Homo sapiens: one gene and its partner. The protein of the gene in region 1 purifies or fractionates together with the protein of each later gene. This does not show direct contact. Each region holds a gene or a part of one and is shown on either strand. Other genes may lie near its edges.

The links. The genes of interacting proteins can lie anywhere in the genome.
Region 2: the proteins of TMEM123 (region 1) and WDFY1 purify together in Homo sapiens (affinity purification with mass spectrometry; 3 studies listed by BioGRID and IntAct, with this or other methods). This does not show direct contact.

Annotation. Positions count from the first base shown.
Region 1 is NC_000011.10:102,449,765-102,456,656, forward strand, and holds the start of TMEM123 (porimin precursor), read right to left. Parts: upstream 3,002-6,892; 5' UTR 2,860-3,001; coding exon 2,760-2,859; intron 1-2,759. UniProt on the Homo sapiens protein: Implicated in oncotic cell death, characterized by cell swelling, organelle swelling, vacuolization and increased membrane permeability.
Region 2 is NC_000002.12:223,935,330-223,942,355, forward strand, and holds part of WDFY1 (WD repeat and FYVE domain-containing protein 1), read right to left. Parts: intron 1-7,026. UniProt on the Homo sapiens protein: Positively regulates TLR3- and TLR4-mediated signaling pathways by bridging the interaction between TLR3 or TLR4 and TICAM1.

The sequences.
Region 1 (6,892 bases):
CATTATTAGGTGCTTACCACAAGCCAGGGTTATGTGCATTAGCTCATCTAACCCTCTCAACAATTCTTAGGAGTATTGTTTTGCAGACAAGAACTGAGGCCCAGAGAAGGCCGCCCAGATACAAAGTGGCAGAGACTGGAATTGGACCAGATAGTTTGATTCCTAAGCCTGCAGATATGAGTGCCAAAATGGAACTACTGATTTTCTACTATAAACCTGCTCCTCCCCCAACCTTCCCAATTGTTGCATTACCAGCTGCTCAACCCCAAAACCAAGAGGTCATCCTTTGATTCTTCTCTCTTCCTCATCCCACCCTCCAATCCATCAGCAAGTGATTAGTCCCAACCCCCCATAGATCTAGAATCCACCCTTTTATCTCCATTGCCACTCACCATCATCTTTTGGCTGGGCTAACACAACAGCCTGTTTTTGTTTCCCTGCTATTGTCGCTCTTAACGCGATGATTTCTTAATTTCTTGGCGACTTATTTGAACACTTGAATACAGCCATTTTCAAGCCACCTCAATCCTTGCACTTTTCAGTTACAAGTCAAAAAAGTCCCTTCTTTCCACAGTTGTTCAAGGTGGGTTTCTGTCACTTGCCACTAAGAGTAATGACTAACAGCCGCCCCTCCCATCCTGTTAATGTTAATGTCATTCATTGGAATACTACAATAAATCCTGTTTGCTGATTTGCAAACTTGCTCATAGTCTCCCTCCTCCTTCAACTGATATTTATAAAGCTATGCAGCTGACTGTGAAGAATATTTTAAAAGCAGAATTTCAATAATGTTTTTATCTTCTCCCACAATATTCTAGGCAATGGTAATACTGTGGAATAAAAGTATTATCTACTTCAAGAGCCATCATCATCTAACGCGGCTTAGTGGTGAAATGGTTAATTGAAAATTTGGATTTTGATCTGAAACCAAACATGTATTAATTGTTTTACTTGCCATAAATTAGCTTACTTATCTATAAAATGGGGACGATACTGTGAGGATTCAATGGGATGATTTATGGACCTAAATTAGCATAGCGTGGGATGCACAGAATATGTACCCAGTAAAAATCAGCCATTAAGAGTTTTAGTATGATGGCTAAAAATCACTATACTTCGTAATGACATTGTATACAGATTACACTATACATGAAGACTACGATTAACAGTTACTAGCTTTTTTGAGAAATCTTCTATTGTATACCTTTTAGTCTAGTTGCAAGGTGACATTATATAGTCTGTAGAAACAGATTCCACCTCTGGTTGGTTATACTAGTTTATGAATTCAGGGCTCGCCTACTGTAGAGCATTTCAAGTTTTGCAAATGGGACTAACCTCTAGTAAGACATTAAGTAATAAACAGAACAAACAGTGCTAAAATAGGGCAAAAAAAATCTGTGTTATCAGGGCAAAAGAAAGAAAAGCATGGTCACTCACAGTTTCTCTAATCGGTAATTCATTGAAACAGTAAGGCTTATCTTCACAAACACAGCAACAAATTTTTAAAAATGGAGACCTCACCTCATGAGATAATTGGTATAAAATTAGGACCAAGATACACGATGGACATGATTTTACCACTTTTTTTCTTAAATGATCTCAAAATTAGGTCTGCGAAGCCAGTTTGTCACACGCACAATTAAGCAAACAAAAAAACTTCAGCAAAACAAAGAAAAATTGTTAATTCACCCAGGTTATTCCAGAAAAAGCAAGTGTTGTGCCTGAACCTTCCAGATTTACAAACTGCCTTTTTCTTTTGCTGGATAAAACGAACCTAAGGCTAACATATACAGTGGATGGATAGAACTTAAAACCATGAAAACCTTGGGTTACTTAACTTATCCTAGTTTACTGACCATTACCTAGGGACCTGACTTCTCTAACAGTTGACAAAGGAAAACAGTATTTACACAACAAATCCCAACTTCCTGGTTTCATCCAAAAAGGGCTGTTTGAAGTCTCCAAAGGGCCAAGGGCCTAAAACGAAACAAATTCCGCCCTACACAGAAAAGCAAAGTCAACATCATCCTGTTACGACCTTACTAGCGACGACAAGGGCCACCGGCGACCGTGCAGCTGTGCCCTTAACGCTGCGCAGCTGCCGCGCGCCTCGGCCGGGTGTTTATGGCACACGAGGGGTGGAGAGCGCCCCGCCATGGGGGCGGCCGCCTCAACTACCGCGAGGGCGGGGCGCGCTCCCCAAAAGCTCCCAACTAGCTCCAAGAGCCCCGAAGTCTAACTTCGAGCGTCAGGGGGACCTAAAGATTGTAATTCATCTGGATAATACTGCATAATATTAGACGCTGAAATGCCTGGGGGACGCTTGAAAAGCTCCCCGACTAACTGGGAGACGTTTCCGCGGGCCTAGGTAGACATATTTTTCAACTCAGCTAATCTTGTTTACAAACGGAAGCCTTAGAAACTCTAACCTCGGCAAACATTAACTTCAGGGAAAGGCTGTAAAAACCAACTTGCGGTAACTCAACAGGTTATGCGCACCCGTCCCGGCCTGCGACCGCCGCATCCAAAAAGCGAGAGGGGAAGCACCAGGCAATTTCCTCAGCAGGCGGCCCCGGGGCCAGCGGGTGACTGGTCCAAACCTCAGTTTCCCCCACCCCGCCCGGTCACCTCTGGGTCCGCCCCGAGCGTTCGGCCAGACACACGCGGAACTTTCTGTACCAGAGCCCAACTTGGGAACCCAAGCCTCGGCAGCGCGCTGCCTCCCACGAACGGGGCTGACGACCCCCGCAGCCACTTACCCGCCATGGCTGCGCTTTCATGGGCGGCCCCCAGCAGCGCTAGCACCTGCAGCGTCCCCAGGAGCAGCGCGGCCCAAGCACCTCGCGCGCCGAGTCCCATTGTTCCGAGGGCAGGATGCGGCAGCCTCGTGGGCTCCCAGCCGAGGTGGCGGCGGCGAGAGCGGCTCCTCTGCGCAGCCGGCGCCGGCTCCGCTTCCCCTTCGGCCGCGCACGTTTCCCCTCCCGCCGCTTGCCCCCCGAATGACCAAATAGGGCGCAGGAGCGGGGCCTGGAGGGGGCGTCGCGTGCGCAGCCGGGGCGGCGGGGCCGGGCTGGGTGGCGCGGGGGCGGGCTCGGGGTTCTGGGCGTGGCGACTCGGCTCGCGGCCTCCCTCGCAGGCGCGCGCTTGGGAACCCCAGAAACCGCGAGCCGTTTCCTTTCTCTTCGGAAATGGCAGTTTTGTTGTCCTGGATGAAGGCGAGCGCCGCTGCCTCCCTGAATGCTGAGCACGCTGGCTTCGCGGTGCCCGGAAGGAAGCCTTTGAAGAGTAGTTTTGCGGGCAGGGAGGGGACAGGGGTGCGTGCGACTCAGAGTGAGAGGGAGGAGTTGCAGGGCAAAGGCGGGAGGAGGGGGAGATTCTGGAGAGGAACTTGAGGGGATGGGATTCACTCTAAGGAGTCCTGGGCGGTCGGAGCTTTCCCCTCGCGTGACCCAGCCTAAGGGGGAAGTGGAGAAAAACAGCTCGACAGATTTGTTGCTTAAATTCAAACGTAAAACACCTACGATCTTCTTATCCCAGTTGTACTTCATCTTCTCCACGGGTTCCCTGTATCTCTGATTAAGACACGAGATTAGTGGAGTGGGCGGGTGGGGGCGCGCGCAGGAGTTGGTAGCAACTCTCAGTGAAATACAGTAGAGCCATGGAAAGCGGGGGCTGCATTAATCCAACCAGCCTTTTCTCTCCTTGTGCCCTGCTGTCCCAGTTCAGATGAAATGGCCAGTTTTGAACAGTTTTTGGCTGAGTTCCTTTTAAACCCTTGGAGCCAATGCTAATCACTTGTCTTGACTTGAAGTGCTTGTAAAGTCTGCATTTTCATCGTGCTCAGAACTCTGAAGTGACATAGCTACCTGTGGCTAATGCATGAGAATAACAAAGGCTGAGTCCTGGCTTGGGTGGGAACCCTCAGCTGAAGTAGAAGACTGAAGGATCCAAGGAACCTAAAATCACAGTGAATCCCCACCTGCAAAGGTCTTAATGTTGCAGATCTTTGGCACCTGAGCCAGATTTCATCACATAAAGGCCACATTGCAGTTAACTTTTGAAAACTGTGTTATGAGAGGTAGAACTTTCTCATGTCAGGCAAATCCATCATTACAGAGGTCTGACTGGTCCTAGAGATTAACTGAGACAATCTGTCCTAAATTTACAGAGACTTCCATCTGTGGATTCAGTCAGCCAACCTGCAAATGTTTCCCCTGCAGCTTATCATGGACAAAAAGCAAGCATTGCACATTTCGATTTTGGTTATTCTATTTAACTGGGGAATCTGGTTTAGGAATAAACCGTTCTGGTGACTACCCCATTATCCAAGCATTTCCCAATCTAGGCCCAACCTGTCTTTCCAGCCTTGGTTCTGTTGCCCATGGAGAAGGGTGCTTTCTGGTTCCTGGCATTTGCATACGTTGTTCTTTCCTTCTGGAATTCTCTTCACCAACCCACAGCTAATACTTCCTTTAAGGCTCAGTGTACTTATAGCCTGGGAATCTGGGGTGGAATAAGAGGTCTGGATGTTTATATCCCCACCACATTCATGTGTTGAAACCTAATCCTCAAGGTGATGATAATAAGATGTGGGACTTGGGTGGGCATAGTGGCTCATGCCTGTAATCCCAGCACTTTGGGAGGCTGAGAAGGGTAGATCGTTTGAGGTCAGGAGTTGAAGACCAGCCTGACCAACATGGTGAAACCCCGCCTCTACTAAAAATACAATTATCTGGGCGTGGTGGGACGTGCCTATAATCCCAGCTACTCGGGAGGCTCCCGAGTAGCTGGGAGGCTGAGGCACAGGAATCGCTTGAACCTGGGAGGTGGAGGTTACAGTGAGCCGAGATCACGCCACTGCACTCCAGCCTGGGAGACAGAGTGAGACTTGTCTCAAGAGAAAAAAAAAAAGATGTGAGGCTTTCCGGAGGTGATTTGGTTGCTAATGAATGGGATTAGTGCCCTTGTAAAGGAGGCCTGAGGGAACTTGTTTCACCCTTCTGTACTGTGAGGGCACAGCAGGAAGACGCCATCTGTGAGGCAGAGGGCCCTCACCAGACACCAAATCTGTTGAGGCCTTGCTCTGTCAACTTCCCAGCCTCCAGAACTGGGACAAATAGATTTCTATTGTTTATAAATTTGTTGATAAAGTATCCCATTTAAGGTATTTGTGTTATAGCAGCAGAAACGGACTAAGACAGTGTGGAGAACAAGATATTTATTTACTTGGACAGTTTTTCCCGGGTACTGACCTGTTGGAGACACCTTCAGATCTCTGCTATCTGATTGCCACACCACAGTGAGTGGGTGTGCCCATCTTTGATACTAACAGCTCAGTACTGTGGATTGCCCATGTTTTTTCTAGTCTGAGGAGAGGGGAAAGAGCAAGGAACTGTGTGGCCTTCCTGCTCTCTTGGAAACTCTATTGGGAGGACTAGCCTCCCAGAGAAGTTGTAGCCCCAGTTATGCCTCAGGTTCAGCCCCCATCACTGTACCAACATTTTACTTTGGTGATGTGAAAAGTTAAAAGAACAGCCCTTGGCCATTTAGGTCTCTCCTCCTTTCCAGCCTCATGTCTGGATCCCTCTCTGTAACCTCACTAGAGCACTCAAAGTTTTCCAAATATGCTGGGGCCTTCCACGCCCCTGTGTTCTTGCTCCTGTTCTTCCCTTTGCCCAAGATGCCCTCTAACCTTTTCTCTTAGGCAGTTTCTACTCCTCTCTCAAGATTCCCTTCATATCCCATCTCCCCACCCATCTGGGCAGATTTTAGTGCTTGGATCCCTCTGCTCATACATTGATCAACTGGGTCTCTAACCTTGTTCTCTATAAAATATTCTCCACATAGCAGCCAGTGTGATTCTTTTAAAACATGTCAGATTATGCCATTCCCTTGCCACTTAACAAAGTCTGAAACCATGGCCTGCAAGGCCTACGTGACATGGTCCATGGCTGCCCTTACCACCTCATTTTCTACCCTCTCCTTCACTTCTCAGCTCCAGCCTCCTTGCAGCACTTTAGAAATGTCAAGTCAGTTTCCATCCCGGAGCCTCTGTACTTGCTGCTTCCTCACATCCTTCAACACTGCTCATCTGAGAAAAGCCCTTCTTGAATACCCTAGTTTACAGCTCTGTTTCTTTTTGTGGCATCCAGTGCTATCCATCATTATGTTCATTTATGTGTTTATTTTTTGTCTGTCCTACAAAAATACAAGTTCCATGAGAATAAAAAAGTGAATGCATATTTTGGCCAAGTGCCTATCGCATATTGCTACTGGATTCATGTCATACGAATCACTTCCTTTTTTTTTTTTTTTTTGAGACAGAGTCTTGCTCTGTCGCCCGGGATGGAGTGCAGGGGCACAATGTCACCTCACTGCAACCTCCGCCTCCCAAGTTCACGCGATTCTCGTGCCTCAGCCTCCTGAGTAGCTGGGACTACAGGCATGTGCCACCATGCCTTGCTAACTTTTGTATTTTTAGTAGAGATGGGGTTTCCCATGTTGGCCAGGCTGTTTTTGAACTCCTGAAGTAAAGTGATCCACCTGCCTTGGCCTTTCAAAGTGTTGGGATTACAGGTGTGAGCGACCGCACCCAGCCTACTTTCTTTTATTTAGAACTCAGTTTCCCAGCCTCCATTACAACTGGGTTCAAGAATATAACCTAGGCTTTGCCAGTCAGGCTCATCCATATCAAACTTAAATTCAGGTATAAGCAACCAGAGGAAAGTGGCTCATTATGGAGCTCCTTGCCTTGCTGGTATGAATTGCCCTAATAGCCAGGCGGCTGCCTTAGTTGGCAGCACTAGCAGTGACGTTAGTTTCTCAGTGGTTGCAACATGGAGTTTCTGATGTAATAGTGGTATTGACAGAGAGCTGCAATGGTGATAGTTTT
Region 2 (7,026 bases), on another chromosome or scaffold:
AAGGGAAGTGTTTTGAGCAAAGTAGTATGTGGTTGACAAAGAAAAATGAATAAAGAGATTATTTCACCATGAAGTATGACAAAAATACATCATGAAATCAGTATATATGTGCTAATAATGTCTTAACAACTCTCAGAAAGATTTGCTGAGCATACTTTGTAGAGAGGGAAGATGAATACCTAAATTCTAGAAACAAGTATCATTCATTATATTACCATCTGCTTCTTAGGAAAGAACTAGCAGATTATTAAAGCTAAACACAGCAGAGGAAATGTCTACTGTGCAGAAATGGTTAAGTCTGTATCATTCAACCAGTAGCTAGTTATGCAGTACCTGGTGGAGTACAGACTATGTGGGAAGATAAGATGAATAAACACAAAGCAACAGGAACTAATACCTGATTGTAATTAACTAGGCATCATCAGTAATATACTAGGAGTGTTGAAGGAAGCTCAGAAAGGACAGAGAATGATGGGCTGGGAAGAATTATTCAATGGAGGAGGTGGAACTTGAAGTGGATCTAGGAGATGAAGGAGGGTCTGAATACAGGAGAGAGGGCAAGTGAGGTTCCTGGTGAGGGAGGCAAAGGCACCCAGGTGGGAAATGTACCAGGTGTGAGTGGGACAGAACACACACTGACTTCACTGGACACAAAAGAACCATAATAAATGAGAGATAGAAGGTGGAAATAAAGCTTAGCAGGGAGCAGTTATGGGGTTCCCAAAGTCCTTTTTTTTTTTTTTTTTTTTGGGGACAGAGTCTTGCTTTATTGCCCAAGCTGGAGGGCAGCAGCATGATCTTGGCTCACTGCAACCTATGCCCCTTGGGTTCAAGCAATTCTCGTGCCTCAGCCCAGCTTCTTGGGAGGATTACAGGCATGAGCCCCTACACCTGGCTAATTTTTGTATTTTTAGTAGAGACAGAGTTTGACTATGTTGGCCAGGCTGGTCTCTAACTCCTGGCCTCAAGCAATCTGCCTGCCTCAGCTTCCCCATGTTCTGTGATTACAGGCATGAGCCACTGCGCCCGGCCCCCAAAGTCCTTTTACAGACATGATTAAATAAGGAGCTAATGAAAGGTCATGAGCAGGAAAAAGACACAATAAAAGCCTAGTTAAAGATAGGAGATTAGTGGGACAGATCCAAGTACAGTATGCTGGAACTCAGGGAAGCCAGTTAATAGGCTTTGAAAAATGAGGTTTAAAAGATGATGAGGACAAACACTAGGGTAATTATGGGCAGGTGGGCAGAAAAGAGTTCCCACAGCAGGCCTGCTGCTGCTGTCCTTAGAAAGTCTTGCTTGCAAGGTTGGCCCTTGGCAGGTGTCTGGGACCTTGTTTATCCAGAGGGGACCTCACCATTCCCTAACTCCTAAGAATGGCTCACTGTGCTTCATGCCTGTATAAAATATGTGGTTTATGTTGACCACCTACCTTCCTTCTGAGAGTTTGGAATTTTGGAACATTAGCCAAGGGCACCTACATGACCAGCCTCTAACACTGAATAAAGTCTCTAAGGAGCTTCCCTGATAAACAATATTTCACACATGTTGTCTTAATTCAATCTGAATTAGCCTGTCCTGTGACTCCACAGGAAGAGGACTCTTGGAAGCCTTGTGTCTGGTTTCCTCTGGATTTCACCCCATGTGCTGATTTTGTTTTGCGTCTTTTGGCTATGATAAATCACAGCCATGCGTATGACTATAATGTGTCAATCTTTCTAGTGAATCAATGAACCCGATCTTGAGGATCTCAAATATAGCAGGGGAAAGATGTCTAAGTGAAACTAATCACTGACATGACCTGCAAGTAACCAAATATGGAAATAAAGAAAAGGCATGACTCAAAGGCAGTTCTAAGAATTTAGGATTGTAAATAACCCCTCAAATGGTATTGTCCTATTCAAACAGGAAAAATTTTTTTATTTTCACTTATTCACGTGCACACACAAACATGCATACAAAGTAGAAACATATTACTCTTTCGTAAGATTAAAGTAACAAAATGCAAAATAAGTGGAAATGAAAATAATAATAGCTAACACTTGTATAGTGCTTTCTCTGTCCCAGTCTTTAAGATTAAAGCAATTAAATGGAAAATAAATGGGAATGAAAACAATAACAACTAACACTTGCATAATGTTTTCTCTGTGCTAGGCACTGTTCCACGTGGTTTAATTCACCTAATCCTCACAAAACTCTGTAAAGCAGGTACAAAACGGACTCATGTCCATTTTGCACATGAGAAAACTGTGATACAGTGAGGTTAAATAACTTGTCTAAGATCACAGGGCTGGGATTCAAACTGAGGCATTCTGGCTCCCAAGCCTTTGTTCTTAACTATGCTATAAAAAGAAAATGATTGTAACAATGAAGGATCACCCTAACAATACAGGAGTAAATGTGTGGGGTGGCCACCCAGGCTTCCTGCCTTCTCAAGTCTTCAGTTTATTTTATAACACAAATTAAAGTCTACTTTTAGGCTCTGCATGACAATGAAAATACAGCAGTTAACATCCTGGTTTTCTGTATTAACTAATGAATTCCAGCTATGCCAGCCTTCCTCCCAGGCATAACACTTAAAAATCAAGTTATTTATTTAAGATTGTTTCTATGTGAACAATTGGTAAATACACAAATTTTTCCCCAAACCATCTTAATAAACTTAGATATATCTAAGTGGAAGCAAATATATTACATATTTGGTATAATTTTTAAAAAAGGAAAATGCTAAAAAACATCTAAAAGTTGGTTTTCTGTAATCTTTACTCTTTCCCAGCCTAAGTGCAACATCTCAAAACATTTTAAATCACATGAGATTTATCTTTAACTTGGGACAAACAAAATTGAGTTTCCTGCAGAAACCAATCTTGGCCTACGAGCCCCTAATGCAACAGTATAAGTACGTCCATCCACAAACTCTATTTCTCAAAAGTGAAGACAGTAGGCCTATAGCCTTAACTTATTTATAAGGCTTTATAAAGCTTTTACCTTTTAAAAATTGTATCATTCAATCAACTGACTGTCTACATTTTTGGTGCAGTCCACAGCAAAAAAGTCCAAAAAGCAAACATACTGGTTCCTACTGTCTCACCATTTTAGTTCCGCTCTGAAAGCAGAGTCTTATTTTCTGTTTCCCCTACCAGGAAAGTCACCACTGTAGTTCAAATTCTTAAACTTAAATTTAAATTAAAGAGCTTAAGGTAATTATTACTTCAGCAAAATACTAATGACTTCATACAAGAAGTAGTACCATTTTCTATTAACCATTCACGAGACATTAATCCATAAAGGTTTCTAAGCAGAACCCTAAGCTGACCACCCAAACCACTAATGACCTGTGACTCCCAGGTGTAATGGCATTAAGCTTTGATATTCCACATTGGCTTAATACTCTTTGGAGTGCTGACCGTATCTAGCTTTGTCATATGCAGTTTGATTACAGTGAACTAGGTGGCTATCTGTGAATGACCCCAGGTAAATATATCCCAGAAGGTGACAAAAAAAAAGAGGATAAAATGTAAGCAGTATTTTTTTTTTTTTTTTGAGACAGGGTTTTGGTCTGTCACCCAGGCTGGAGTGCAGTGGCACGATCTCAGCTCACCTCAACCTCCGCCTACCGGGCTCAAGTGATCCTCCCGTCTCAGTCTCCCAAGTAGCTAGGATTACAGGTGCACACTACCATGCCTGGCTAATTTCTGTATTCAGTATTCTTTCTTGGTGGTTGTACATAGGCAAGCACAGTGACAAATAACCCTCCTTTCTTGTAGAGCCGTGGTTCTAAGTGTGGTCCCTGGACTAGCAGCATCAGCATCAACGTCACCTGGAAACTTGGCAGAAATGCCAACTCTCAGGCCCCACCTGACTTTCCAAATCAGAAACTCTGGGGGTGGGGTCCAGCAACCCGAATTTCAACAAGACCCCCAGGTGATTCTGATGCACATTCAAGTTAAGGAACCAGTGTTCTAGAGAGGCCAGATAAGTACATGAAGCCCGGACTGGGGTTTCTCAATATCAGCACTATTGACATTTGGGGCTCAATAATCCTTTGGTGTGGGGCATAACAGGATACTGAGATGCATCCCTACCCTCTACCTAGATGCCAGTATTAGTTACATACAGTATTAGTCCGTTTTCACACTGCTGATAAACACATGCCAGAAACTAGGTAATTATAAACAAAATGAGATTCAATGGACTCACAGTTCCATGTGGCTAGGGAAGCCTCACAATCATGGTGGAAGGCAGAAGACATGTCTTACATGGTAGCAGACAAGAGAGAAATAGGAACCAAGCCAAAGGGGTTTTCCCTTGTAAAACCATCAGATCTCCTGAGACTTACTCACTGCCACGAGAACAGTATGGGGGAAACTGCCCTCATGATTCAATTATTTCCCACTGGGTCCCTCCCACAACACATGGGAATTATGGGAGCTACAATTCAAGATAAGATTTGGGTGGGGACACAGCCAAACCATATCACCTCCCCCACATCATGACAACCAAAAATGTCTCCAGATATTACCAAATGTTCCCTGGGTGGGAAAACCACCCCTGGCCCAGAACCACTGGCCTAGATTTTACAAAAGTGGATACTAACTTCAGGAAAACCTTCATACCTTTCACTTTTCTTCTCAAAATGCTCTCAGCTAGTTCTCACTGCTTTTAGCGTTTGTAAAATGAATTCACTTCAGCTGGACCCTACTTTAAATGTAAAAAGCTACTGGCTCATGCCTGTAATCCCAGTACTTTGGGAGGCCGAGGCGGGTGGATCACGAGGTTTGGAGTTCAAGACCAGCCTGGCCAAGACGGTGAAACCCTGTCTCTACTAAAAATACAAAAGTTAGCTGGGTGTGGTGGCGGGTGCCTGTAATCCCAGCTACTCGGGAGGCTGAAGCAGGAGAATCGCTTGAACCTGGGAGGCAGAGGTTGCAGTGAGCCAAGATCATGCCACTGTGATGCATGCAGTAAATAAAGATTACAAACAGTCTCATTTGTTCAGGCCAAATTTTAGCACCAAACGAGTTTTCAGGTCCAATTTACACACACACATACACACTTCTGACGTTTAGAATGCACTAAATTTTGGAACTGCTGATAAGAGAAGGTGACTGTACCTACCTTATAGGGAGGAAGTGTGAGGATTGGATCCAATAACACATAAGGTCCAATTCTGTACTCGTAGAGAAAAGGGACTTTCAACAGGTTAGCTATTGTTATTTCTAAATTACAAATTCCGATCATATCATTTGCTTGTTTTGAACTCTTTGATGGTTCTACACTGCCTGCAAAATAAGGTCCAAATTCCTTATTTCTTTCTTTTTTTTTTTTTTGAGACAAAGTTTTGTTCTTGTTGCCCAGGCTGGAGTGCAGTGGCGTGATCTCAGCTCACTGCAACCTCCGCCTCCCAGGTTCAAGTGATTCTCCTGTCTCAGCCTCCCAAGTAGCTGGGACCACAGGTGTGTGCCACCATGCCCAGCTAATTTTTGTGGGTTTTTTTGTTTTTGTTTTTTGAGACAGAGTTTCACTCTTGTTGCACAGGCTGGAGGGCAATGGCATGATCTCGGCTCACTTCAACCTCTGCTTCCTGGGTTCAAGTGATTCTCCTGCCTCAGCCTCCCAAGTAGCTGGGATTACAGGCATGTGCCACCACGCCCAGCTAATTTTGTATTTTTAGTAGAGATGGGGTTTCTCCATGTTGGTCAGGCTGGTCTCAAACTCCTGACCTCAGGTGATCCACCCGCCTCGGCCTCCCAAAGTGCTGGAATTACAAGTGTGAGCCACTGCACCCAGCCAATTTTTGTATTTATAGTAGAGATGGGGTTTCACCATGTTGGCCAGGCTGTTCTTGAACTCCTAACCTCAGGTGATCTGCCTGCCTTGGCCTCCCAAAGTGCTGGGATTACAGTCGTGAGCCACCGCACTTGGCCCCCAAAAACTTTTTTTTTTTAATTTAAAAAACAAAACAAAACCGGACACTGGGTCCTTCTAGCTCTCAGTCTTCTCTGTTGCTATTGTCACTGCCCACCTTTTGCTCTGGTCACTTAGAAATAGCTATGGTTCTTTCCCTCTTACAATTCCCTCCTGTCCTTTCCTCCTTCCTCTGCCTGGGATGAGGGTGCATCCCTCCTTCCTTTCTAGATGCCACTCCTCTATCCATGAAGACCAGCTCAACGACCTTCTCTAGGAGGCTGTCCCCAAACCCCGGCCCCAGCCCAAAGAGCCTCCTCTTCCTGTGTCTTCCCAGCACTGGATGCTGAATACATAGGGGCCATCTCTTCACTAGACTGTTCAGCCCTTGGGAAAGAGCAACTTAGCTGTCAGCTGTCTCTCCCCCACAGGTCTAGCATGGGCCCCACACACGTGCTGGGATTACAGGCGTGAGCCACCTTGCCTGGCCAAGGTAGTGTGGCTTTTGACCCCTGTTGTGTCCTCAGGGCCTGACACTCAATAAAAAAGCTTTTTCTAAATGAATGAGTAAATGAGTGAAGAACGTGACACGTATTTATGACAATGTGAAAACAAACCACCATGGCTAACACCAAGAAAAAACCCACGCCCATGTGCTTTCATTACATCTCATGAAGTGTAGCACCTACTAAAAAGGTTGTTCTCCCTTCAAGGAAGTTGCAAGAGCCTGAACACAACAGAAACCTCAAACGCCAACCCCATCCTGGTCCAGTCATCTACCTGGGCTCTGCAATAACAGTGGTGCACGAGTGAAAAAGTGAGCAGATGCAAGCTCCCCCAGAACGTTTCAGTCCCAGAGCAGCTTAGTAATCACTTTCCAAAAACATTTATCAGCACTGCTCCTGACCAGCAATCTCAAATATTTAGCAACTTACCCAAAACGCATGATTCATGAATAAAATATTTGACCGAATAAAGGCTGCTAACTTTTTTTTTTTTTTGATACGGAGTCTGGCTCTATCGCCCAGGCTGGAGTGCAGTGGCACAATCTTGGCTCACTGCAAGCTCTGCCTCCCAGGTTCACGCCATTCTCCTGCCTCAGCTTCCCGAGTAGCTGGG